Homo sapiens: one gene and its partners. The protein of the gene in region 7 interacts with the protein of the main gene of each other region in a biochemical or structural test. Each region holds a gene or a part of one and is shown on either strand. Other genes may lie near its edges. The genes, in order: TIGAR, ENC1, UBE2E2, MAFK, TRIM41, MAPK7 and NFE2L2.

Region 1 (3,500 bases), on a different chromosome or scaffold from region 7:
TTATATGTACTGTCAATATTTCCTTGTATTTTCCTAAACCTTTACCAACTTCTTTGCTCACTATTCTTTTCTGAAACTCAGATCTCCCTTCTGCAATTATTTTCCTTCTTTTTCATTTTTCCTTTCAAAGTTACTTCAGAATCTCTTTGTCTGAAATGTCATTTCACCTACACAGCAGAAAAAAATCTTGCTGGGTATAAAACTCTAGGTTAATCCTTGTTATTTCTCAGCACAATAAAGAAATCATCAATATGAACAAATTTGCTGACAGCCTAACTAATGGTCTTTAATAAAGGATGGTTTTTTCCTCATTCTTTGGAGTCTTGCAATTTTGCTATAATGAATGTAGATATGGGTTTCTTTACTTATCCTGGTTGGGATTTGGTACACTTCTTGGATCTTTCAACAATTCTGTAAATTCTGTAAAATTGTCAATATTCTGTAACCTCTGAATATCACCTCTTCCTCCCATTCTCTCTGCTATCTCTTTCTGAAAGACATTAGAACTTCTCATCATGCTCTTCATGTCTTCTAATGTCTCCTATTTTATTTATTTTTTAAAGGGACTTTTTTTTTTGAGACAGGGTCTCGCTCTGTCACCCAGGCTGGAGTGAAGTGACACAATCACGATTCACTGCAGCCTCAACTACCTGAGCTCAAGTGATCCTCCCACCCCAGCCTCCCAAGTAGCTGGGACTACAGGCAAGTGCCACCACACTCAGCTAACTTTTTTATTTTCTGTAGAGACAAGGTCTCCCTATGTTGCCCAGGCTGGTCTCAAACTCCTGAGCTCAAGTGATCTTCCCGCTTCGGCCTCCCAAAGTGCTGCAATTTCAGGCATCAGCCACTGTGCCCAGCTAAACTCTCATATTTTAAATCTATCATGCCGTGCTACATTTAGGTTATTATCATATATTTATCTATAATGATCACTTCAGCCGTGTGTGATCTATACTTCAGTACTTCCACTGAGGTTTTCATTTTTTGGCTTTTTTCTGTTTGTATTTTAATTTTTAATTTTTGTGGGTATACAGTAAATGTATATATTTATGGGGCACATGAGACACTTTGATACAGCCATGCAATGCATGACAATCACATCCTGGTAAGCAGGGTATCCATCCCCATAAGCATTTATCCTTTTTGTTACGAATGATCCAATTATATCCTTTTAGTTATTTTCAAATGTACAATTACATTGTTATTGACTATAGCCACCCTGTTGCGCTATCAAATACTAGGTCTTATTCATTCTTTCTTTTTGTACCCATTAACCATCCCCACTTCCCCAACACCTCCCCCTACTACCTTTCCCAGACTCTGGTAACCATCCTTCTACTCTCTATCTCCATGAGTTCAATTGTTTTAATTTTTTGCTCCAACAAATAAGTGAGAACATGACAAGTTTGTCTTTCTGTGCCTGGCTTACTTCACTTAACATAATGACCTCCAGTTCCATCCATGTTGTTGCAAATGACAGGATCTCATTCTTCTCTGTGGTTGAAAAGTACTTCATTGTTTGTGTGTGTACATTTCCTTTATCCATTCATCTGCTGATGGACATTTGGATTATTTCCAAATCTTGGCTACTGTAAAAAGTGCTGCAATATGGGAGTGCAGATATCTCTTCAATATCCTGATTTCCTTTCTTTGGGTACATACCTAGCAGTGGAACTTCTGGATCACATGGTAGCTCTATTTTTAGTTTTTTGAGGAACCTCCCTCCAAACAATTCTTCACAGTGGTTGTACTAATTCACATTCCCACCAACAGCATACAAGTGTTCCCTTTCCTCCATGGCCTTGCCTGCATGTGTTATTGCCTGTCTTTTGGATAAAAGCCATTTTAACTGGGGTAAAATACTCATTGTAGTTTGGATATGCATTTCTCTGATTACCAATGATGTTGAGCACTTTTTCATATGTCTCTTTGTCATTTTTTTTTAATATATATTTTTTATTATACTTTAAGTTCTAGGGTACATGTGCACGACGTGCAGGTTTGTTACATATGTATACATGTGCCATGTTGGTGTGCTGCATCCATTAACTCGCCATTTACATTAGGTATATCTACTAATGCTATCCCTCCCCCGTCCCCCCATCCCACAACAGGCCCTGGTGTGTGATGTTCCCCTTCCTGTGTCCAAGTGTTCTCATTGTTCAATTCCCACCTACGAGTGAGAAAACGCGGTGTTTGGTTTTTTGTCCTTGCCATGGTTTGCTGAGAATGATGGTTTCCAGCTTCATCTATGTCCCTACAGAGGACATGAACTCATCCTTTTTTATGGCTGCATAGTATTCCATGGTGTATATGTGCCACATTTTCTTAATCCAGTCTATCATTATTGGACATTTGGGTTGGTTCCAAGTCTTTGCTATTGTGAATAGTGCCGCAATAAACATACATGTGTATGTGTCTTTATAGCACATGATTTATAATCCTTTGGGTATATACCCAGAAATGGGATGGCTGGGTCAAATGGTATTTCTAGTTCTAGATCCCTGAGGAATTGCCACACTGTCTTCCACAATGGTTGAACTTGTTTACAGTCCCACCAACAGTGTAAAAGTGTTCCTATTTCTCCACATCCTCTCCAGCACCTGTTGTTTCCTGACTTTTTAATGATTGCCATTCTAACTGGTGTGAGACGGTATCTCATTGTGGTTTTGATTTGCATTTCTCTGATGGCCAGTGATGATGAGCATTTTTTCATCTGTCTGTTGGCTACATAAACTTCTTCTTTTGAGAAGTGTCTGTTCATATCCTTTGCCCACTTGTTGATGGGGTTGTTTTTTTCTTGCAAATTTGTTTGAGTTCTTTGTAGATTCTGGATATAAGCCCTTTGTCAGATGAGTAGATTGGAAAAATTTTCTCCCATTCTGTAGGTTGCCTGTTCACTCTGATGGTAGTTTCTTTTGCTGTGCAGAAGCTCTTTAGTTTAATTAGATCCCATTCGTCAACTTTGGCTTTTGTTGCCATTGCTTTTGGTGTTTTAGTCATGAAGTCCTTGCCCATGCCTATGTCCTGAATGGTATTGCCTAGGTTTTCTTCTAGGGTTTTTATGGTTTTAGGTCTAACATGTAAGTCTTTACTCCATCTTGAATTAATTTTTGTATAAGGTGTAAGGAAGGGATCCAGTTTCAGCTTTCTACATATGGCTAGCCAGTTTTCCCAGCACCATTTGTTGAATAGGGAATCCTTTCCCCATTTCTTGTTTTTGTCAGGTTTGTCAAAGTTCAGATAGTTGTAGATGTGTGGTATTATTTCTGAGGGCTCTGTTCTGTTCCATTGGTCTATATCTCTGTTTTGGTACCAGTACCATGCTGTTTTGGTTACTGTAGCCTTGTAGCATAGTTTGAAGTCAGGTAGCGTGATGCCTCCAGCTTTGTTCTTTTGGCTTAGGATTGACTTGGCAATGTGGGCTCTTTTTTGGTTCCATATGAACTTTAAAGTAGTTTTTTCCAAGTCTGTGAAGAAAGTCATTGGTAGCTCGAAGG
Region 2 (3,500 bases), on a different chromosome or scaffold from region 7:
CATTTCATAGAGCTTGCATTTCCTCACACTGCTTACTCTTCCCATTTATTTATTTCTCATTTCATCTGGGGAAATTGTGCAGAGGGCTTTTGTATCCCTATTGCTGTAAGTCTAAGTACAGACAAAGGGAATTCTGGAGGAGCCACTCATGACCTTGCACTGAATTCTTTGCTTTTGTGTGTTCAGAAGCCTGATTCATTTCATGAGTTGTTTCTTTTGGCTGTTTCCTAACAGTGATTCAAGCTTTCAAGGCATGCCTTAGACTACGGTGTCATTGCCCCACCTCCACCTCCTTGTAACCTATATGTCAACATTAGGCCAAAAGAATGTATCTTATAATAATATAAAATTTCAAGACAATGCATATTCAAACAGGAAAAAAGGAATACACACACCCTCCCCCCAAAAAATTGCATATTCAAACAGGAACGATAATAAAAAAAAAAAGGACACACAACAACAACAACAACAACAAAATCTAGAGAAGAAACAAAGCAAATCAAAGCCTAAGTTAGGTTGAGGCCACACGGCACCATGAAAACAGAGGATAATCAAAGTAATTTCCTTTCTGCCCTTCCCACCCACTGGCAGAGCAGCAGGAGGCAGATAAAACCTCCTAGGTGGATGAGCTTTAAGACCTAGGGAAACTTTCTGTTAAACACTCTATTAATTCCGTTAGCACCTACATTTGGAGGGCAGAGGAATTTGCAGTTTGGGACTGAGACCCACCTACCCAGCACTTTAAGGCACTCCAACCCCCTCTTAAATGTTTTAGCACTATCTTGTGTAGTAAACTTTAGAAATTTTAACCAACATTCTCCCTGTCGGAAATTCAAAGAGTGGCTTTGATCAGGCGCTTACGCTGCCCTTTAAAAGCAGCAAACTTGGCCCTGTCAAATTTAGTTTTCATGTGCTTGACTCTCTCACTGGTAGCGCCAAGGGTGAAGAGGATGTTATTTCACATATAACTTAACACTTTACTTGCTCTGTTTCCCAGCGACCGGAAGGGTATGATTCAGTTCAAACACCCAGGGTAGGGTGAAGTCAAGTGTTTGCCAACATGTTCACTCTGGGCTGAAAAAGGAGGAACCAAAAGTGAAGTCTAAAGATAACAAGCAGATAATAGTCAAAGAAACCTCATTTTCCTACCACACAGAAAGCTAATTCCACTGCCATTATCTCACAGTAAGTTACTACACGTCAAGCACTGGGCTAGGTATTTTCGCCTCTTTTAACTCCCCTATCAATTGACCCAAGTCTGAGTTGGGACAGATCACAGGAGATTAAAGATCAAACCACTCATTTGACAGAGAAGCAACCTAAAACTCAGGAAGGTCTAGAACTTAAAACTAGGGCCAGAATACACATGTGGCTTCTCTCCTCTTTCTGCCTCAATTTCCTTACCTTGTTCCAAGGATTCCAGCCAGCCTGCCCATTGTCATTTTTTATGTACCACCACCCTGGTAGCAATTTTTATGGCTCTTCTGTGCAAATATAGTCAGTTCTGGACTAACACCCAACTAAGTGTGCTGTTAATTGATGCTTTCGCCTAGGAGGTTCTTTAAACCTGCTTTAGAGGTGAGTCATGCATTCATATCTCAAATGAAATAACCACTTTCAGAGCATTTGTTTATTCAAGATTACTGAGATGCCAGCAAGGCTACAAAAAACCAGTTTGGTGTGAGACACTATTAGCCCAGTTGCTCCCCAGAGGAGGTGTCTGATTGTTCCTGCTGCTTTGAAGGAGTTTCATTCCAGGAAAGCATGACATAACTCAGAACTCTGATAACTGTACGAAGGCTGGAAGAGATAACTGAAGAAGTAAAAAAAATAGCAAGCTGGAGGCCAAGTGCGGTGGCTCACGCCTGTAATCCCAGCACTTTGGGAGGCTGAGATGGGTGGATCACTTGAGGTCAGGAGTTCAAGACCAGCTTTACCAACATGGTGAAACCCCATCTCTACTAAAAATACAAAAAAGCCCGACGTGGTGGCGGGCACTGTAATCCCAGCTACTTGGAAGGCTGAGGCAGGAGAATCCCTTGAACCCAGGAGGCGGAGGTTGCAGCGAGCTGAGATAGCACCATTGCACCCCAGCCTGGGAAATAGAATAAGACTCTGTCTCAAAAAGAAAATAAAATGGCAAGCTGAAATGTGAGAGTGAGGCCAAGTTTAATGATGTTTCTAAATGAGCTGTAAGGGACAGGGAAAGAAAAGACCAATGAGATGAAACCCCTCTGTGCTTAGCTTGCCACTAGGCCTAGATCTCCTTTTCTCCCTTTGAAGTCCCCTTCAAAGGTGTGAAACATACTAGGGAAAACAGAGCCAAAAGTTCCCAAGTAAATGAGTTTGTTTTCATTGTAGTTCCTCCAAAGCAGTTACTTTCTTCTCTTATTATTAGTAATAAGCCCATGAATCACCAAAACAAGTCAACACATCCTGTGTGCGCTGGGCTATACTTACACATGCCTAAGCGATTCCTGGGGCCAATCCTAAGAATGCTTAGCAGCAAAGCAGCCGTGAGCTTTGCGAACTCTGAACTGTGTAGGCCTATTAATTATTTGAGCCAAGAGTATTCTATACTCTTAAATACACAGACAACTATTATGTACTCAGATATATGACTCAGAAACACAACTTTTGTTAGCCTTGACAATAGGGTCGGCCTGACTGATTAACTCTGAAAGGCCATAGTTTGGGAAGTTTAGGTGGCTCTGTGTTATCTGCACAAATTTCTGCTATGTACATGCAACCTTTTACAAAGACAGATATAGATTTATCTTTAAAGGTAATAAACGCCTTAAAGGGGGCTACTTTTTAAGTAAAACATTTAAAATAAGCTAATAATTTTGGAGAGAATAAACTAGGAATGAATTTGAGCAATACATTTTTAAACCCTAATCATTCTACAAAGGGTTTGAGGAAGCAAAATTTGAATATAAATGAAGTATCACCTGGGATGACATTGGTGTCATGGATGTGAAGCTCAAGTTTATTCGGTGGCAGTGCAACACGATGCTCCAGTGCTGATGCCCTAGAGCCAGACCCCCTGCATTGACTTCCTAACCAGCTCCACCTCTTACTAAGCTCTGCTAACTCGGGCAGCTTAGCCTCCGTAATGCATGAAGGTTTTTTCATCTATAAAATGAAGCTAGTAATAATTCCCCACGGGGTTGTTGTGAGGATAGAATGAGATGATCCGTGGGAAACACGTGGCACCGCTGCAAGCACACAGTGAGGGCTCAATAAACATTAGCTGGCATACTTAACAGAGGTCAGGGGTTCTCAACTTGGTTGTTCATTGGAATCATCCGGAAACTTTTTAAAAATACTGATGCTTGGACCCCACCCCAGACCAAATGAAACTAAGTCTCTGGGATGGGCAGTTTTTAAAAAAGCTCTTCAGGGCCGGGTGCGGTGGCTTATGCCTGTAATCCCAGCACTTTGTGAGGCCGAGGCGGGCGGATCATGAGGTCAGGAGATCAAGACCATCCTGGCCAACA
Region 3 (3,500 bases), on a different chromosome or scaffold from region 7:
TTGTGGGCCCATTTGGTGTCCCAAATACTCTGGGTAACAATATCAACAACACATTACCATTTATAAATGGCTTTCACATATACCATCTCATTTTAACCTCAGAGGAATCCAGTGATTTAGGCAGGGCTGGTACTAATCCCAATTTTATATCAAAAACTAAGCCTGTGGAAAGTTAAGTGACCCATCCAATGTGATATGACTAATAAACAATTAAACTGGTTTTCAAATCTACATCTGCTGTCTACAAATATCATGCTGATAAGGATGGGTAGTCATACCCTAAAGAACATCTGTGTTGGAATGGACCAAAAATTCTTTAAAGAGACAAGTGCAAATTACAAAAAGAGTATGAAAAAGATTTAGAAAATAAGTTTATGTATGGATAAGAGTGAGAAAGTATTTTTTAAGTGAGTTAAATTTGTATCATTATACAAGGCCTATTTTTGAGGTGACAGCATTTCCGGGTTAAAATAGCTCTACAGATTCAGTGTAGGAAAATCTTATTTATTCCTATTCTATCAAACTTGTTTTTGTGATAATTTGAAGATAGATTTAAGATAAACTTCAATCTAACCTAATCTTTCCTACCTCTGTAGGTAAAAAAACCTACAGAGATTGAAAGTGTACCAGATAACAGTGTGAAATAAGTCCATTAAGCAAAAGAATGGACATTTGACTACTTTAAAATAAACAACTCTATTTAAGATTCTAGAAGTGTCAACATTCATAAAAACCAATTAGGAAACTTTATTTTTATGTGTTAAAAAGTGTGATAAACTAAATGTTAGCATGTATTTTACAAATTCTCTTCTAGTCTCATATGAGGCAGGCTGTCTTTGGTTTTATGGAACATTATTTTTAGGCTTGTTCTTACTATCAATAGCATTATTTCAAAATCTATTTCTTTTACTTATGTGGTTCTGCTTTAGTTAGGAGTGATTTTTAAGTTTTTGCAGAATGCATTTGTAATTTTCTGAAACGGAGCAAAAAAAAAAAACTAGTTCACTGAACAGAAGTCTTTTTGATTGCTGAGAGAAGGCTTTGGTGGAATGAATCTATTCCTTTAAGCAGGAATATCTGTAGAGAGAACAGGCTGTCATATACAGGCTTATTCAGGGTAACAGATTCCATTTCAGCTGACTTGGAGGCAAAGCAGGCCAGGCTTCGAAATCACCTCAAAAAAAAAAAAAAAAAAAAAGCCTTCTTGCAACATTACCTCCAAATGAGGTTATACAAGGTTATACACAGTCACAGACAAATGGGATTAAAATGGGAACAACAGGACTGAAAGAACAAAATTAACTTTAAATTAGTATAACATTATTGGACTTTACTGTCTGTAGTAAAGTATGAATTAATTCAAAAAATATTTTATAATGATCCTGCACAATTTTATTTTTTGGGCAGGCTGGGTACAGTGGCTCATGCCTGTAATCCCAGCACTTTGGGGGGCCAAAGCGGGCGGATCACAAGGTCAGGAGTTCGAGACCTGGCTGGCCAACACGGTGAAACCCCGTCTCTACTAAAAGTACAAAAATAAGCTGGGCTTGGCGGCACACGGCTGTAATCCCAGCTACTTGGGGGGCTAAGATAGGAGAATCGCTTGAATCCAGGAGGCGGAGGTTGCGGGAGCCAAGATCGTGCCACTGCACTCCAGCCTGGGTGACACAGTGAGACTCAGTTTCAAAAAAAAAAAAAAAAAAAAAATACTAATTTGCTACTTTAAAAAAGATTTTACTGCTGAAAAATAAAGAAATATAAAAGTAGAAAGACTGTTATTTCTTGATGTTTTATAAAACAGCCAGGATCCTAAGCAACCCCACTGATACTCGTCATTTCCATTTGTGTAAAATTTCATGTATCCAGTGAACAGAGTTTACTCATGATTGTAGAAGAGGGAATCTCATGCAATATTTAAGCTATTAATTACTCATAAAATAATTCTCCCACTGAGAACATCAATGAAAACCCTATAGCTATCTTTGGATTTTTGTATTTTCTAAAATAAACCCAATTTGTAAAGACATGGCCCAGGAATTAAGAATTTTCAGTGGTAAGCACACCAGCAAGCCATAAAGGCCTGGCTATAGACTTTTTCGTTTTCTTGGGAGGTGTATTTCCTTGTTTACTTTTGGGGTATTTCCTAGAACAGACCATTCAGGACCGTTATAATAGCTTGTCAGGATGCACAGTTACTAGGATGCCAAAAAGGTCACGTCTGCATGGTGCTGCCTGGTTGTTATCAGATTTTAATAGCCCACATTCCTCAAATTAACATCTTCTAGTAGGCATCTAATTAAAGATTAAGCTATTCAACTTGAATTTTTATTATTATTTGGCAGGATAACTTAATTCATTCTTTAAACGTACTTTCCCATCTAAAATGATTTTTCATTATTTTTTTTACCACACTATACTTTTTCCTTTTTGGCAAATGATAGGTCTTAAAAACACTAATGAGAAGACCCAATTTAAAAAGAAAATAGTTACATACTATGAAAATTTAACAATAATAGTAGTAGAAGCAGTGGTGGTAGTGGTAGTAGCAGTAGTAAACAAGTTACTAAGGGTCTGACATTTAAATCTTGACAAGCTCCAATTCATACTAGATTTAAAGTCTCTTACCAGGGTTGCAATCTGTAAGAAGTGAGCAGATGGAGAGGAGAACTTTAGAAATAGTTAAAGCCGGACTCCAGTTGTCCTTTAAGATGTCCAGACAGATCACACCTTGGCTGTTAATATTACAGTGATAGATTCTTGTTCGGAAGGTAACCTACAAGAAAATGTAAAGTTATATTTTGTTAGACAAAGTGTTTATTAACAGTATCTATAGACAATTTTTGTCTAATAAAATTGCCTATTTTATCAGACAAAATAGCCCAGGCTATTGGTTAACATACACTTGATTTTTTTCTTGGGCACATGAGATTAATCAACAGAGATCATCATTTTAGAATTTGTCATTTTGGGCACAGAGAAATAAACATCAACAGCAAAACCATGACATTCTGCTTCTTATAAAGAGTCCTGTTATTTAACAAATGTTTTAGGGACTGAATTTACTTTTGATACAACTACAGGAATGTTCATGGGGAGAAACTGACTCTGACTTCTAAAAAATTTCAAAGAAAACTTTTGTTAGATTCCAGTTATTTTAAGGATTTTGTACATTTATAATATTCAAACACCAAAAAGCATGAGAGTACTAATACAAAGAAAATAAATATTATTCTATAACAGTTTTTTTTTCTTTTTTTTTTTTTTTGAGATAGAGTTTCGCTCTGTTGCCCAGGCTGGAGTGCAGTGGCGTGATCTTTGCTCACTGCAACCTCCACCTCCCGGGTTCAAGCGATTGTCCTGCCTCAGCCTCCCAAGTAGCTGGGATTAGAGGTGCCCGCCACCACACCCAGCTAATTTTTGTATTTTTAGTAGAGACAGGGTTTTGCCATGTTGGCCAGGCTGGTCTTGAACTCCTGACCTCAAGTCATCCGCCTGCCTTG
Region 4 (3,500 bases), on a different chromosome or scaffold from region 7:
GACGTGTGGGGCTCGGCCAGATGCCAGGGGCAGAGTTCAGCGTGGGGATCTTTCCACTAAAAAGATGCCTCCGCGATGCCCTGTGACACTGCGGAGGCACACGGTAGCCGGGGGCGCCCCAGGAGGGGTGGCTGACTACTTCCAGGAGGTCAAGGTTGCCAGGGCTACTGAAGCACGCCTGTGCCCCGCTCCAACCCCAGTACTTCGAGGCACACCTGCACTGGGGCCCTCTGAAGAATGAGGACCTGGCGGACGCAGGGCTCCCAGGCGGCCCCCACGCTGTGCTCGCAAGCCTGCCCCCCACCTCCTTGGGCAGGTCACGACTCTGCTCTGCCGAGGAAGCCTGGACCAGCCACGCGCCTGGAGAGACGACGCAGCGGGACGGCCCAGCCAAGCAGCAAAGCTTCTCTCAGGAACCCAGCACGGGATGGGATGGTGCTGGCGCCTCCCTCTCCCCACCATGCACAGAATAAATCCAAGTAGCCTTAACCTAATGTCGCTTTAAACATCAGAGGCAAGAAAGATGACAGCTTGCTTTTGGAAGGACATTCAGAGAAGAGTTTTGTATGCACAAAAAAAGTTTGTAAAGCAACTGATCTAAAAATGACGACTGCCCTAAATGGGGTTTTGTGAACTGTCCGACCTCACATGGCCTCCAGGGCCGCCAGAGCACATGTAGAAAGCGCTCCCACCCCAGGGCCAGAGACGCAGCCTTAGGGTGTCATCCAGGGGGAAAGCGTGCCTGGGGTCGCAGAGACGCCCGTGCACTACCCCGGGCCCAAGGCAGGGGCTACTGCATTAGCACCTGGTCAGCACTGCAGCCAAGCTCCCCTCCAGCAGCCCCCGAGGAACGACGTCCTCGCATTGTGTCTTACGCCCAGCAGCTAACAAAACACCAGCATCGCCACGCACAAGCACCCGACACCCCGAGCTCCTCTGAGTTTCGGTGGTCACCAGAGAAGTGCAGTGTTCAGCGCCACAGCGGGGGCCTGGGTGGGCGGGTCTGAGTTTCCGCTGTGGGGCCCCAGCAGCCGACGTAAGTAAGGGTGCAGCGCTCACGCCCCACGTCCCGGGAGCAGCGCCGGGCAGCAAAGTTCTCCGGCACCACCTATAACTTGGAACAGCTCTCAGGTAACTGGTTTTCGGATGGAAGAGGCAGGGTTTTCAACCCAAGGCCAGACACCTCGACGTGACGCAGAACTAAACAAGGCTCAGCGGGGGCATCACTTCCTCTCAAGGAAAAGGAACTGCCAGCAGCCTCAGACAGAGGCAATTCCTGCGGCTGCAGCTGGGGATGAGTGACGGAGCCAGGACGCCGGGCGCCCCTTTCCAGGATCCAGACTGAGGGCCTGGGCTCCATAAAGCGCAGGGCAGGGCGGCTCCGCCCAGGAAGGCACCTTGCAGAGGGTGAGGATCAGAGCCCTGGGCTCCCCCCGGCAGGGCAGGCAGCCCAGGGTCAGTCGTCCAGAACTGTGCTTTCAGGAGCAGGTGATCCCCAGGCAGCCACCTCAGCTTCTGGAGGATCATGTTTTCCCTTTTAATTTTCATTTTAGAGACAAGGTGTCACTCTGTCACCCAGGCTGGAGTGCAGTGGTGAAATCACAGCTCACTGCAGACCTCCTGAGCTCAAGCGATCCTCCTGCCTCAGCCTCCCGAGCAGCTGGGACTACGGGTGGGCACCCCCACACCCAGAGAATTTTAAACTTTTTTGTAGAGACAGGGTCTCACCATGTTGCCTAGGCTGGTCTCGAGCTCCTGGACTCAAGTGATCTTCCTGCCTCAGTCTCCCAAAGTGCTGGGATTACAGGTATGAGCCACCATGCCCGGCCATTTTTAACTTTTTAAGTCCCAGCAAATACTCACTGGTCACCCATGGGCCTGACCCTGCTCAGTGGGGGGCTGGCAGCCTTGGCACCTCTTGCTGTGCTGGCACAAGCTGAGAAGGACCTGCTTTGGGGTCCAGGAGGGAACATTTTCTCCACCAAGTTGGGACTGGGCACAGTGGCTCTTGCCTGTAATAGCAACGCCTCCGGAGGCCGAATGCTCGAGCCCAGTAGTTTCAGGCCAGCCTGGGCAACATAACAAGGCCCCATCTCTACAAAAAAAAAAAAAAAAAGAATTTTAAATAGCCAGTTGTGATGGCACATATGTGCCTATGGTCCCGGCTACTCGGGAGGCTGAGGTGGGAGGATTGCTTGAGCCTCGAAGTCGAGATTGCAGTGAGCTGTGATCACACCACTGCACTCCAGCAGCCTGAGTGACAGGGCAAGACCTTATCTTTTAGGAAAAAAAAAAAGAGAGAGTGCAAAAGTGAGTTGAGCAGCTGACGGCTGGATGACCCCTCTGAACGGTCCCGGCTGTGGATGCCCATAGAGAAACGGGGATTTCAGCTTTGGGGCTCTGATTCTTCCCAGATGAGAGGACGCATCGGGGCTGCCGCTCGCTCTACGAGGCCAGCATGGGGGCTCTGGATGGGTCACTTGTTCTTGCCCAAGGGGTGAATGATGACACAGACTCCATGCCCCACCCCCTCAGCTGCCCAGCCAGTCTGACCAAGACGGAGTGGCCCTTCCACTTCTATTCTCCGCGGGTCTCCGAGGATGTGGGATGCGGGAGAGGGAGGAGGGGCAGGAGGAAGACCAGGAACGGAGGACGGGAGCTCTGTGCGAGAGACACGGGTTCAGAAACCCAGCAGCACAGCAGCAAGCGCCCTCCCGCCCCCCGACCAGTGACTCCCACGGCAGGTGCAATCCACAAAACCAGAGGCCACCCAAGGTGTACCCGCCTCTCCCAGGAGCCTTTCTGCCAGAGACCCCAAGCCGGGTGCCCTCCACACTGGGCCGCAAGGGTAGGTGGGGCCGCTGTGGCACTGGTACCCAGTGGGTGCCTGTCAAACAGGTGTCAACCGACTAATTGCAGCCCAGCTGGTCCCAGAGACCAGCCAGACACCCTTCCTACTGAGGATGAGGTCCTACACTGCGAGGGCCCCCACTGTCCGGCTGTCCCGGACACAGCCCCACTAAGCATGCGGGAGGCACCCCACTTGGCACCCCGCAGCCCGGCCCATACCAGCCAGCAGCCTGGCCCTGGCTGGCTGCCCTCCAGCAAGCCATGACTGTCGGCCCGGCTTGGAGGACGTCTGGTCACCTTGCATTTGCAGTCTGAGGAAGCTGTGTCATTCCGCTACATCCAGAGGTGACTCAGGCAGCTGCAGCAGCAGAGAGCAGACTGCAGAACACACCACACCCCCTCCAGTCCCCGCCCTGGCTCCCACCACACCATCCTCCTGTCCTCGGCCTCCAGCTCCCCATCAGCATCCTGTTCTCCCCCGGCCGCCCTGGGGCTTCAATCCGCTCCCAGCCTCTAAGTCCAGTCAGGGGCATTCCGGGGGGCCCAGATGCCCCCCAGCCCCCAACCGCATCATTCACCGGAGTTGCCCCTGCCCCTCTCTCTTTTCCTCATCCACGCGCCAACCAGGCTTGATCCCAGCCCTCAAGCAT
Region 5 (3,500 bases), on a different chromosome or scaffold from region 7:
CCACCCCCAACATCCTCTGTGATCCCAAGAAATATCTAATACATGAGTTCCCAGGGCACCAATGACAGGTGTGCCTCCTCCAGGACACTGCGGAGTCCCTGCCCACACTCTACTTATTTCAACTTCTTTGCTTCTTTCTGCTCATCTGCTTTCTCTCCTGCTCAATTACTTGCTAAATGGCAAAGGACACCGAAACCCCTCTTCCAAAGGTTGTAACTGTTATAGCCAATAGGCACACGAGCTCTGTGTTTCTACAATTTGTAGCCAAATACTTTTCTTTAAAGGGCTGTTAGCCCAGAATGAGTGGAATAAGCCCTACCTATTTGCTCTTACCTTTTCTATGTCTTCTACTAGCCTGTCTCCTTTTCTTTGAGAGAGAATATAGGGTAGGAGAGCTCCAGCCTGACTCCAGTCAGGACCAGAGGGAAGTGAAGTGACCTCAGGCAAGCCATGCTTTCAGTTTCCTCAGCTTCAAATAAGAAGAGAATGGACCTCATGGATAGCACACTTACTGCAGTGCCTGGCATGTAGCAGAAGATCAGTAAATGTTATCTAATATTTGTTCCCTATACCTTAAGCTGCCAGTGACATCCTGATAATGACCCCTGAACTAAAGAGTTTACCAAGCCAGAGTGCAAACAGCAGTTGCTGCACAGGATAAGTGGTTGTAGACAAAATTACAGTAATAATGGAATTATAGTCAACTCGTGACAATAGCATGAACTACACAAAATTTGGCCTTCTGATATAACTTTCTACTTTTCTAGTCAATAATTTCTCCATTAATTCAGAATTTATAACGCTTAAATTTACCATTTACTGTTTTTTTTTTTTTTTTTTTTTTTTTGAGACAGAGTCTTGCTCTGTCGCCTAGAATGGAGTGCAGCAGTGCCATCTCGGCTCGCTGCAACATCCAACTCCTGGGTTCAAGCAATTCTCCTGCCTCAGCCTCCCGAGTAGCTGAGATTAAAGGTGCCCACCACCACACCTGGCTAATTTTTGTATTTTTAGTAGAGACAGGGTTTCACCATGTTGGCCAGGCTGGTCTTAACTCCTGCCCTCAAGTGATCTGCCCACCTCTGCCTCCCAAAGTGCTGGGACTACAGGTGTGAGCCACCGTGCCGGGACCCTAAATTGCTGACAAAAACAAAAATTAATAAGCACAAATTCAAACAGAGTTCTATTTAAGATATATTTCCTTTTTTTTTTTTTTTTTTTTTTTGAGATGGGAGTCTCGCTGTGTTGCCCAGGCTGGAATGCAGTAGCACAATCTTGGCTCACTGCAACCTCTGCCTCCCAGGTTCAAGCGATTCTCTTGCCCCAGCCTCCCGAGTAGCTGGGATTACAGGCACATGCCATCATGCTGGCTAATTTTGTATTTTTAGTAGAGACGGAATTTCACCATGTTGGCCAGGCTGGTCTTGAACTCCTGACTTCAAGTGATCCACCTGCCTCAGCCTCCCAAAGTGCTGGGATTACAGGCGTGAGCCACCACAGCCAGCCAGTTATAAGAGAAATTCTCAAAACATTTTTTCTTTTTTTTTTTGAGACAGAGTCTCGCTCTGTTGTCCAGGCTGGAGTGCAGTGGCGTGATCTCAGCTCACTGCAAGCTCCACCGCCCCCGGGTTCACGCCATTCTCCTGCCTCAGCCTCCCGAGTAGCTGGGACTACAGGCACCCGCCACCATGCCCGGCCAACTTTCAAAACATTTAACTGTCGGGCAGACACAGTAATCCCAGCACTTTGAGGGGCCAAAATGGGAAGATTGCTTGAGGCCAGTGGTTCAAGACCAGCCTGAGCAACACAGCAAGACCCTGTCTCCACGAAAAAAAAAAAAAAAAAATTAGCTGGGCATGATGGCACACACCTCCAGTCCCAGCTACTACTCAGGATCACCTGAACCCAGAAGGTCAAGGCTGCAGTGAGCTATGATCATGCTACTGCATTCTAGCCTGGCCAGAGTGAGACCCTGTCTCAAAAAAAACAAAACAAACATGTAACTGTTCAGGAACTATATTTACATATCATTTGTGTGTTATTACCTATTCAACAAAAAAAATTTTTACAAAACATTTTGCCAAGCTACTGGTTACTGCATGTACATATCTGAAAAGAATAAATGACCCACTTGTGGCTGGGCGCGGTGCTCACGCCTGTAATCCCAGCACTTTGGGAGGCCGAGACGGGCAAATCAGAAGGTCAGGAGATCGATACCATCCTGGCTAACATGGTGAAATCCTGTCTCTACTAAAAATACAAAAAAATTAGCCAGGCGTGGTGGCAGTCGCCTGTAGTCCCAGCTACCTGGGAGGCTGAGGCAGGAGAATGGCGTGAACCTGGGATGCGGAGCTTGCAGTGAGCCGAGAACACGCCACTGGACTCCAGCCTGGGCGACAGAGCGAGACTCCATCTCAAAAAAAATAAAAATAAAAAAATAAATGACCCACTTGTAAAATAGCCTATTAAGTCAGAAAGGGAATCACTCAAATTAGTCCTATACAATAAAACTATGTATTTACATTTACTCATCACTTAATGTCAGATTAAATATGTGTATATGGCCTCCCAAACTGCAGAGCGCAGTAAACAGATCAAGAAAAGAGAGTATGGCCAGGCGCAGTGGTTCACGCCTGCAATCCTAGCACTTTGGGAGGCCAAGTTGGGCGGATCACCTGAGGTCAGGCGTTCGAGATCAGTCTGACCAACATGGAGAAATCCCGTCTCTACTAAAAATACAAAAAATTAGCCAGGTGTGGTGGCACATGCCTGTAATCCCAGCTACTCGGGAGGCTGAGGCAGGAGAATCGCTTGAATCCGAGGCAGAGGTTGCGGTGAGCCAAGATTGTGCCATTGCACTCCAGCCTGGGCAACAAGAGTGAAATTCTGTCTCAAAAAAAAAAAAAGGGGGGAAAAGAAAAGAGATTATGACTTTTTTTAATTCCTCACCTACTTCAGGACCTAATACGGGATTTCAGGCAGCTGGCATTGAACAAATTTGGCTAATGCAAATTAAAATCCAGTTTCAGAAGCTCCTTGGAGCAGTCCTACAGGGGGAGGTGAAAGAGAAAGGGTGGAATGCCCATGGATAGTTTGGCCTGGGTTCCTGTTCACAAAGTGACCACACATGATATGATGGGTATGGTTAACTAGGAACTGAGGAGATGGAAAGGACAACAGGACCTCACAATCTCTGCTAAAAATGCAGGGACTAACAGCTAGGCAATGTTACCAATGCAGTGATCCCCATGCTAGACTGGGCTTTTTAAAGATATTCTCCTACTCACTGATTCAGAAACTCTAGTGGTAGGATCCACTGTATTTTTGAAAACCTCCCCTAGTAATTCCAACAATCAGGCAGGTTTAACAATCTTTGTGTAGCCAGGCACAGTGGCTCATGTCTGTAATCCCAGCACTTTGGGAGGCCAAAACAGGCGGATCACCTGAGGTCAGGAATTTCAGAACAGCCTGGCCAACACGGTGAAACCCCATCTCTACTAAAA
Region 6 (2,547 bases), on a different chromosome or scaffold from region 7:
GCAGTGCAGTGTGAACAGGGCCCATGGTGTATTCTAGGCCACAGCCCAGCACTCCTCTGGGCTGCTCTCAAACCATGTCCCATCTTCAGCATCCCTCCCACCAACTTACTCCCCTGTGGTGAGTACCGTGGAACCCCAGCCCACCTCACTATCATACTCAGCTTCCCCTGATGGCCCATCCCAGCCCCTGAAGCTCTATGCCAAGAACACAGCTACCGCACACCACCCTGAAACAGCCACAGCCAAGGTAGGCATGCATATGAGGTCTTCCCCATACCCTCTGGGTGTTGAGAGGTTTAGCCACATGAGGGAGCAGAGGACAATCTCTGCAGGGCTGGGAGTGGGTAGGGACTGAAGGTCTCAATAAACCTTCAGAACCTGAATGAACTGGCTTCATACACACAAACATATTTGTTTATCCCCCAAATGTAGGCACCTGGCTCCTCCTTGCTCCCCTGCTGATGGTGTCCTACCCCGAACTCCAAAAATTACACCTGGAGTCAGGTGCAGAAGGGAACCTTGTATTTCACAGGCCTCATTTTGATGGCAAAAAGACAGTGTAATAATAACATAATAATAATAAAAATATAATACTGAAAAGGATTGTTCAGGGGGAGTTGGGGTCTCCCGATCCTGCCATGGCTCGGTGGTGGCTCAGGTGGCTGCTTAAGGCTGAAAGGTGGGTCTGAGATGAACCTGCAGAATAATCCAAGCCGAGCCTCACCTGCTGGGTCCAGGGCTAAAGCCTTTGAGAATGCTCCCATGGATCCTGGAACTAGGTCTACTGTGGCAGCAAGGCACAGGCTGGGGGCCTCAGGGGTCCTGGAGGTCAGGCAGGTCAGCCAGCAGCATTGGGGAGTCCATCTGGATCTCACGCTGCAGGGACTCAATATCGGCAGGGTTCATGCCATGGCCTTCGAGCCAGTCAGCAAGCAGGGAGGCTGAGAGAGAGGCTGAATCTGCCTGGCTGCAGGGGAAGGAAAGGGAGGGGTGCTATTAGCCTAGGCTGGACCCTCACCCATCCCACAGGTGCATGTCTCCTGCACCAGGAACCTCTCCCCACAGTCCCAGTCTAGGAGCTCAGTCCAGCCACCTTACCCATCCTGTGGCCCATCAGCCACGCCCATGTCGAAAGACTGGTTTAAGAATTCCTCCAGGTCAAAGCCAACACCGTAGCCAGCCCCACTGCCCTTTGGTGTGCCTGAGAACACAGGGGGCAGGGGGTCCTCCACCTGCAGGGAATGACAGGTTACAATGCAGACAGACTGAGGTCTGTAGGCCACCCTGTCCCAATGCTGCTGACTACTCCGCCTGGATATCTGGGAGTGCTAACACCAGTCTCGGCAGTCAGTGAGTGCTGGCTGGCCCCATCTCTGGGCTAGGCACTTTGCAGGCCATATTTAACTTGTCTCCTAACAACCTCTTCATTGCCATTATGCTCCTTCTGTGAGCAAGAGGACACGTTCAGAGATAAAGCCCCATCTGCTGCTCAGTTTTTGTGGAACACTGACCGCTTCCTGAACCCATTTTCCTTTGGCCCAGACCCAGGTGTCCCCATGGCCTGGGCCTCCCTCTCACCTGTGACTTAGATAGCTGCTGGGTCACAAGGTTGACATCAGGTGACTCTGACATGGAAGACTGAGGGGCTCCCCCGGCGTCTGGGGGCGGCAGGCCAGGTGGGAAGTAAGGCAAAACTCCTGGGGTGCTGGAGCCAGGCAGCCCAGGGGGTGGCACAAGTGACTGGGCAGCCAGGAGGCTGGTGGAGGTGGCAATCTGGGGTGGCGCGGGGACAGGGATGGGCCCAGGAGGGCCAGTGGGGTGGGGTGCAGGGCCAGGGGGTGGGCAGGCAGGCTGGGGTACAGGGCCAGAGGTAGAGCCCGCAGATTGTGGTTGCGGGCCAGTGGGCTGGGCTACAGGGCCAGGAGGAGGACTGGTAGGTTGGACTGGGGTTGGGGTTGGCGTTGGCGCTGGGGCAGGGGCCGGCACAGAGGTGAGGGCTGGGGCTGCGGGCCGGGCCATTCGAGTCCAGCGTTCCAACAGGCTTCTGTCATTGTCACTGAGCACTAGTCCAGCCAAGGGGTCAGTGGAGGGGCCCCCAGAGGCCCCAGCCCCCCGTTCCTTTCGCTCCCGCTCCTGCCGCCGTTTCTCCCGCTCCTTGGCTCGTTCTTGCCGCCTCCGCCGCTTCTCCTCCCGCTCCCGCTGGCGCTCCTGGGCTGTCACCGGCTTCCGAGGCTCAGGAGCCTCCAGGGGTGCGCTGGGGCCATCTGCGGGGAAGTTGGGCAGGGGAGAAGGTAAAAGCCTGAAGCCTTGTCCAAGTCCAAGTCTCCCCTCTGCCCACCCGACCTGCCCACAAGGCACCTCTGAGCCGGCTCCTCAAAGACTTGAGCAGGGCAGCTTTAAGGGCAGCCTTAGTATTGTCTGAGATGGCACCATCTTTCTTTGGTGGGGCAGGCTCACTGACTGGTGGAGGTGGCTGCAGGGTCAGATCAATGGTGTCAGGTGCAGGGCCGGGGCATGGTGGCGGGGCTGGTGGTGGAGACTCCATGG
Region 7 (3,500 bases):
TGGGTGCCAGACATAATTGCTTCACATGCATAATTTTACAGTAACCTCACGGGAAATATTATTATCCCTGGTTTCCAGGTTGGGAAAACCAGGCATAATAGTTAGATCAGGCATTAGGTTAGGAAAGGTTAGGAGAGAGGCATAGAGAAAGGCCAGGACCTGCTAAGGTGACCATACTATTGAGTGGCCAAGGTAGCATTCAAACAGGTTTGACTCCTGGGGGCTTCTAATCACCACTTCCAGACTGTACCAAAACTCCTTAAACTCTAAATAGGAAGAAAAGCTCACACTTTAAAAAGTGGGTAAGTTGAGATTTGCCTATTCTGGGGGAAGGAGAGGCCGGAATATAAAAGATTAATGTCTGCAGCTTTTCCATTTAGCAAGACATTTAATCACTGTATGTGACGTGGGGAGGTGGACCTTGTTAAATACAGGGAGAGTGAATACAATCCATCAATGGTACCCACTGTGGTCCTTTTAAGGAAGACACAGAGGCCTCGGTGGATTCAATTTAGAAAGGCAGGACTGTTTTTTGTTTTTTGTTTTTTTTTTTTTTTGAGATGAAGTCTTGTTCTGTTGCCCAGGCTGGAATGCAGTGGCCTGATCTTGGCTCACTGCAGCCTCTACTTCCCGGGTTCAAGTGATTCTCCTGCTTCAGCCTCCCGAGTAGCTGGGATTATAGGCACCCACTGCCCGGCTAATTTTTGTATTTTTAGTAGAGATGGGGTTTTACCATGTTGGCCAGGCTGGGCTGGTCTCGAACTCCTGACCTCAGGTGATCCACCCGCCTCGGCCTCCCAAAGTGTTGGGATTACAGGTGTGAGCCACTGCGCCAGTCTGTTTCTTAATATAATAATAGTTTTAAAAATTTCTGATGTTTGGCAATGTCCAAGATTCTGCCTCACATTTTTCAGAAACTGCCTTTTTTCTTAATTAAATCTCTTAGCTACTGGAGTCTTTGCCTTTGTTTGCCTTGCTACTTGGTACATTTCTTCTGTTCCATTGGCTCTTTTTGTTTTGAAGTAGTGCTCAAAAATAAGTTTGGTAGTAAGAATATGGTGAAGAGTGTGACAGACAGGGTTAAACCAGGCTGAAGGAAAGAGAGCAGAATGGGGAAAATTTGAGTTGAAAACAGCTAGCAGAAAGCTGATGGCGCAAATTCAACCCTAATCTCATGTTTTGGCACTTCTGAACTATAGCAAGCATAAGGGCTCAACTCTTATCTAGTTGAAGCTTACTTGGGTCTTTGAGAATAGTACATCTCAAAATTAAACACTTTCTTAGTCCTTATTGTTAAGTTGTTTTTGGAATTATTGTCTTATTTGTCTGAATTAAGTGTGCTGCAGGACTTATAGGATCTGATGGATGATTTGCCTAAAAGTTGGTCCAGGTCAACCTCAGGGCATTTAAATGCTTGGTCCAGCCACTTTCTGAAAGTTGACTGAAATATGTTGCACAGCAGGGTAGAGGAGGACAAGTTTACTAGATGTCATTTTTAACCTGCTTGTCTTCATCTCTGACTGTAGAAATGTATATTCATTATAAGTTTGCCACAAATAGAGAATAGAGTTTATTCTTTGATCATCTAATTTCTAGGAGCTATTGAAATTTCACTGCTACCTGCTTTTAAATAAGCGCCAACAAACATTTATTAAAAGGGCTTTAAGGTATAGGCCAAGATTTATTCAATTGCTAATGGTATGTTTTCTGTAAATGAAAGCAAAAATATGTTCAAGTGTATAATATTAAATATTAACATTCAGAAACTTGGAGAAATACAGATGGCTTTTTTTTTTGAGACGCAGTCTTGCTCTGTCGCCCAGGCTGGAGTGCAGTGGCATGATCTCCGCTCACTGCAAGCTCCACCTCCCGGGTTCACGCCATTCTCCTGCCCCAGCCTCCCGAGTAGCTGGTACTACAGGCACCCGCCACCACGCCTGGCTAATTTTTTGTATTTTTAGTAGAGATGGGGTTTCACTGTGTTAGCCAGGATGATCTCGATCTCCTGACCTCATGATCCGCCTGCCTCAGCCTCCCAAAGTGCTGGGATTACAAGCTTAAGCCACCGCGCCTGGCCTAGATGGATTTCTTGTACCAGACTATACCCTAGACATGAAAACAAGACTGTTAAACAAAATCCTGTGCTACCTAAAGTTTGAGCCTTCTGTGTGTCAGTTTCTGCCATAATAAATAACTCTTAACTATGATTATTAAGTATATTAAGAACTTTGAGTAGGGGAGGCACGTTTAATCATTCGTTTTTACGGCATATGTACTATAATACCTGTGTGTTGCAAATCCTGGTATTTAAAAGTCTTTTTGTGTATTTGAGCATGTAAGTTTATTTGGTCCAAACTGCTGGTACTAGTAAAGACAAGTCCAGGGCATAAGTAGGACTTACAGCACCAAGTTCGTCTTTTTTTTTTGAGACAGAGTCTCAGTCGGTCACCCAGGCTGGAGTGCATTGGTACAGTCTGGGCTCACTGCACCCTCCACCTCCCGAGTTCAAGCGATTCTCCTGCCTCAGCCTCCCAAGTAGCTGGGATTACAAGTGTGTGCCGCCACGCCCGGTTAATTTTTGTATTTTTAGTAGAGATGGAGTTTCACTATGTTGGCCAGGCTGATCCCGACCTCAGGTGATGTGCCCACCTTGGTCTCCGAAAGTGCTGGGATTATAGGCGTGAGCCACTGCGCCTGACCTCCAAGTCCATCTTTCAAAGGCTCTGTTGATAATTGACTCTTGAGAGTCATTACAGTCCATCAACAGCCTGTATTCTGAATATTTGTTTTTAATTCTAAGACAATGCTAAATAGCCATTCCAAATAAGGTGAGAACTGAGACTTTAGGGCCTGTATTATCAGCTGTACACTGACAAGCTCTGAACTCTATTGCTTTTTCAAATCAGAGAAGAAAAATGAGTAAGAAAAGAAAAATATGGATCACTTAGGCTTTGATGCCTCCTCTGAGTTTATAGTGTTTACCTTCTGTATTACTTAGGTGATCCTCTCTAATGGCATTTTAAATCTCTGTTGATACTTGTCTTACTTATGTATCTGTTTTTTTTTCCTCTATAGTAGATAGAATTTATAGATATATATGTATTTTAAAGTAAGATACAATTTACGTACCTTACAATTTACCCATTTAATCTAATTCAGGGTTATGCAACCCTATGAATTTAGTAGTTTATTCATAGAGTTATGCAACCATCACTGTAATCAATTTTCAACACCCTCAAAAGAAACCCCATATCCATTAGCAGTCACTTCCCATTTCCCCTCAACTCTCCTGGCCCCTGGTAACTACTCAGTTATTTTCTGTACCTATGGATTTGCCTATTCTGGACATATCATGTAAATGGAATAGCATGTAAATGGAATCATACAGTATTTATCCTTCTGTTGCTGGCTTCTTTCACAGCAATATGTTTTCAAGGTTTAAAAATGTTGCAACGTATATCAATAGCGTCATTCCTTTTTATGGCTGCATACTATTCCAT

What was found.
Region 1: the proteins of NFE2L2 (region 7) and TIGAR form a complex in vitro, tested with the Homo sapiens proteins (one study listed by BioGRID).
Region 2: the proteins of NFE2L2 (region 7) and ENC1 form a complex in vitro, tested with the Homo sapiens proteins (2 studies listed by BioGRID).
Region 3: the proteins of NFE2L2 (region 7) and UBE2E2 form a complex in vitro, tested with the Homo sapiens proteins (one study listed by BioGRID).
Region 4: the proteins of NFE2L2 (region 7) and MAFK form a complex in vitro, tested with the Homo sapiens proteins (one study listed by BioGRID).
Region 5: the proteins of NFE2L2 (region 7) and TRIM41 form a complex in vitro, tested with the Homo sapiens proteins (one study listed by BioGRID).
Region 6: the proteins of NFE2L2 (region 7) and MAPK7 form a complex in vitro, tested with the Homo sapiens proteins (one study listed by BioGRID).

What each region holds. Positions count from the first base shown.
Region 1 is NC_000012.12:4,345,213-4,348,712, reverse strand, and holds part of TIGAR (fructose-2,6-bisphosphatase TIGAR), read right to left. Parts: intron 1-3,500.
Region 2 is NC_000005.10:74,630,729-74,634,228, forward strand, and holds part of ENC1 (ectoderm-neural cortex protein 1), read right to left. Parts: intron 1-3,500. UniProt on the Homo sapiens protein: Actin-binding protein involved in the regulation of neuronal process formation and in differentiation of neural crest cells.
Region 3 is NC_000003.12:23,531,827-23,535,326, reverse strand, and holds part of UBE2E2 (ubiquitin-conjugating enzyme E2 E2), read right to left. Parts: intron 2,774-3,500; coding exon 2,626-2,773; intron 1,175-2,625; coding exon of another isoform or gene 1,113-1,174; exon of another isoform or gene 1-1,112.
Region 4 is NC_000007.14:1,533,702-1,537,201, reverse strand, and holds part of MAFK (transcription factor MafK), read right to left. Parts: exon of another isoform or gene 2,322-3,500; intron 1-2,321. UniProt on the Homo sapiens protein: Since they lack a putative transactivation domain, the small Mafs behave as transcriptional repressors when they dimerize among themselves.
Region 5 is NC_000005.10:181,226,281-181,229,780, reverse strand, and holds part of TRIM41 (E3 ubiquitin-protein ligase TRIM41), read right to left. Parts: intron 1-3,500.
Region 6 is NC_000017.11:19,381,498-19,384,044, reverse strand, and holds the end of MAPK7 (mitogen-activated protein kinase 7), read right to left. Parts: coding exon 2,359-2,547; intron 2,265-2,358; coding exon 1,579-2,264; intron 1,233-1,578; coding exon 1,099-1,232; coding exon of another isoform or gene 1,095-1,098; intron 968-1,094; coding exon 814-967; 3' UTR 501-813; downstream 1-500. UniProt on the Homo sapiens protein: Plays a role in various cellular processes such as proliferation, differentiation and cell survival. The upstream activator of MAPK7 is the MAPK kinase MAP2K5.
Region 7 is NC_000002.12:177,258,228-177,261,727, reverse strand, and holds part of NFE2L2 (nuclear factor erythroid 2-related factor 2), read left to right. Parts: intron 1-3,500.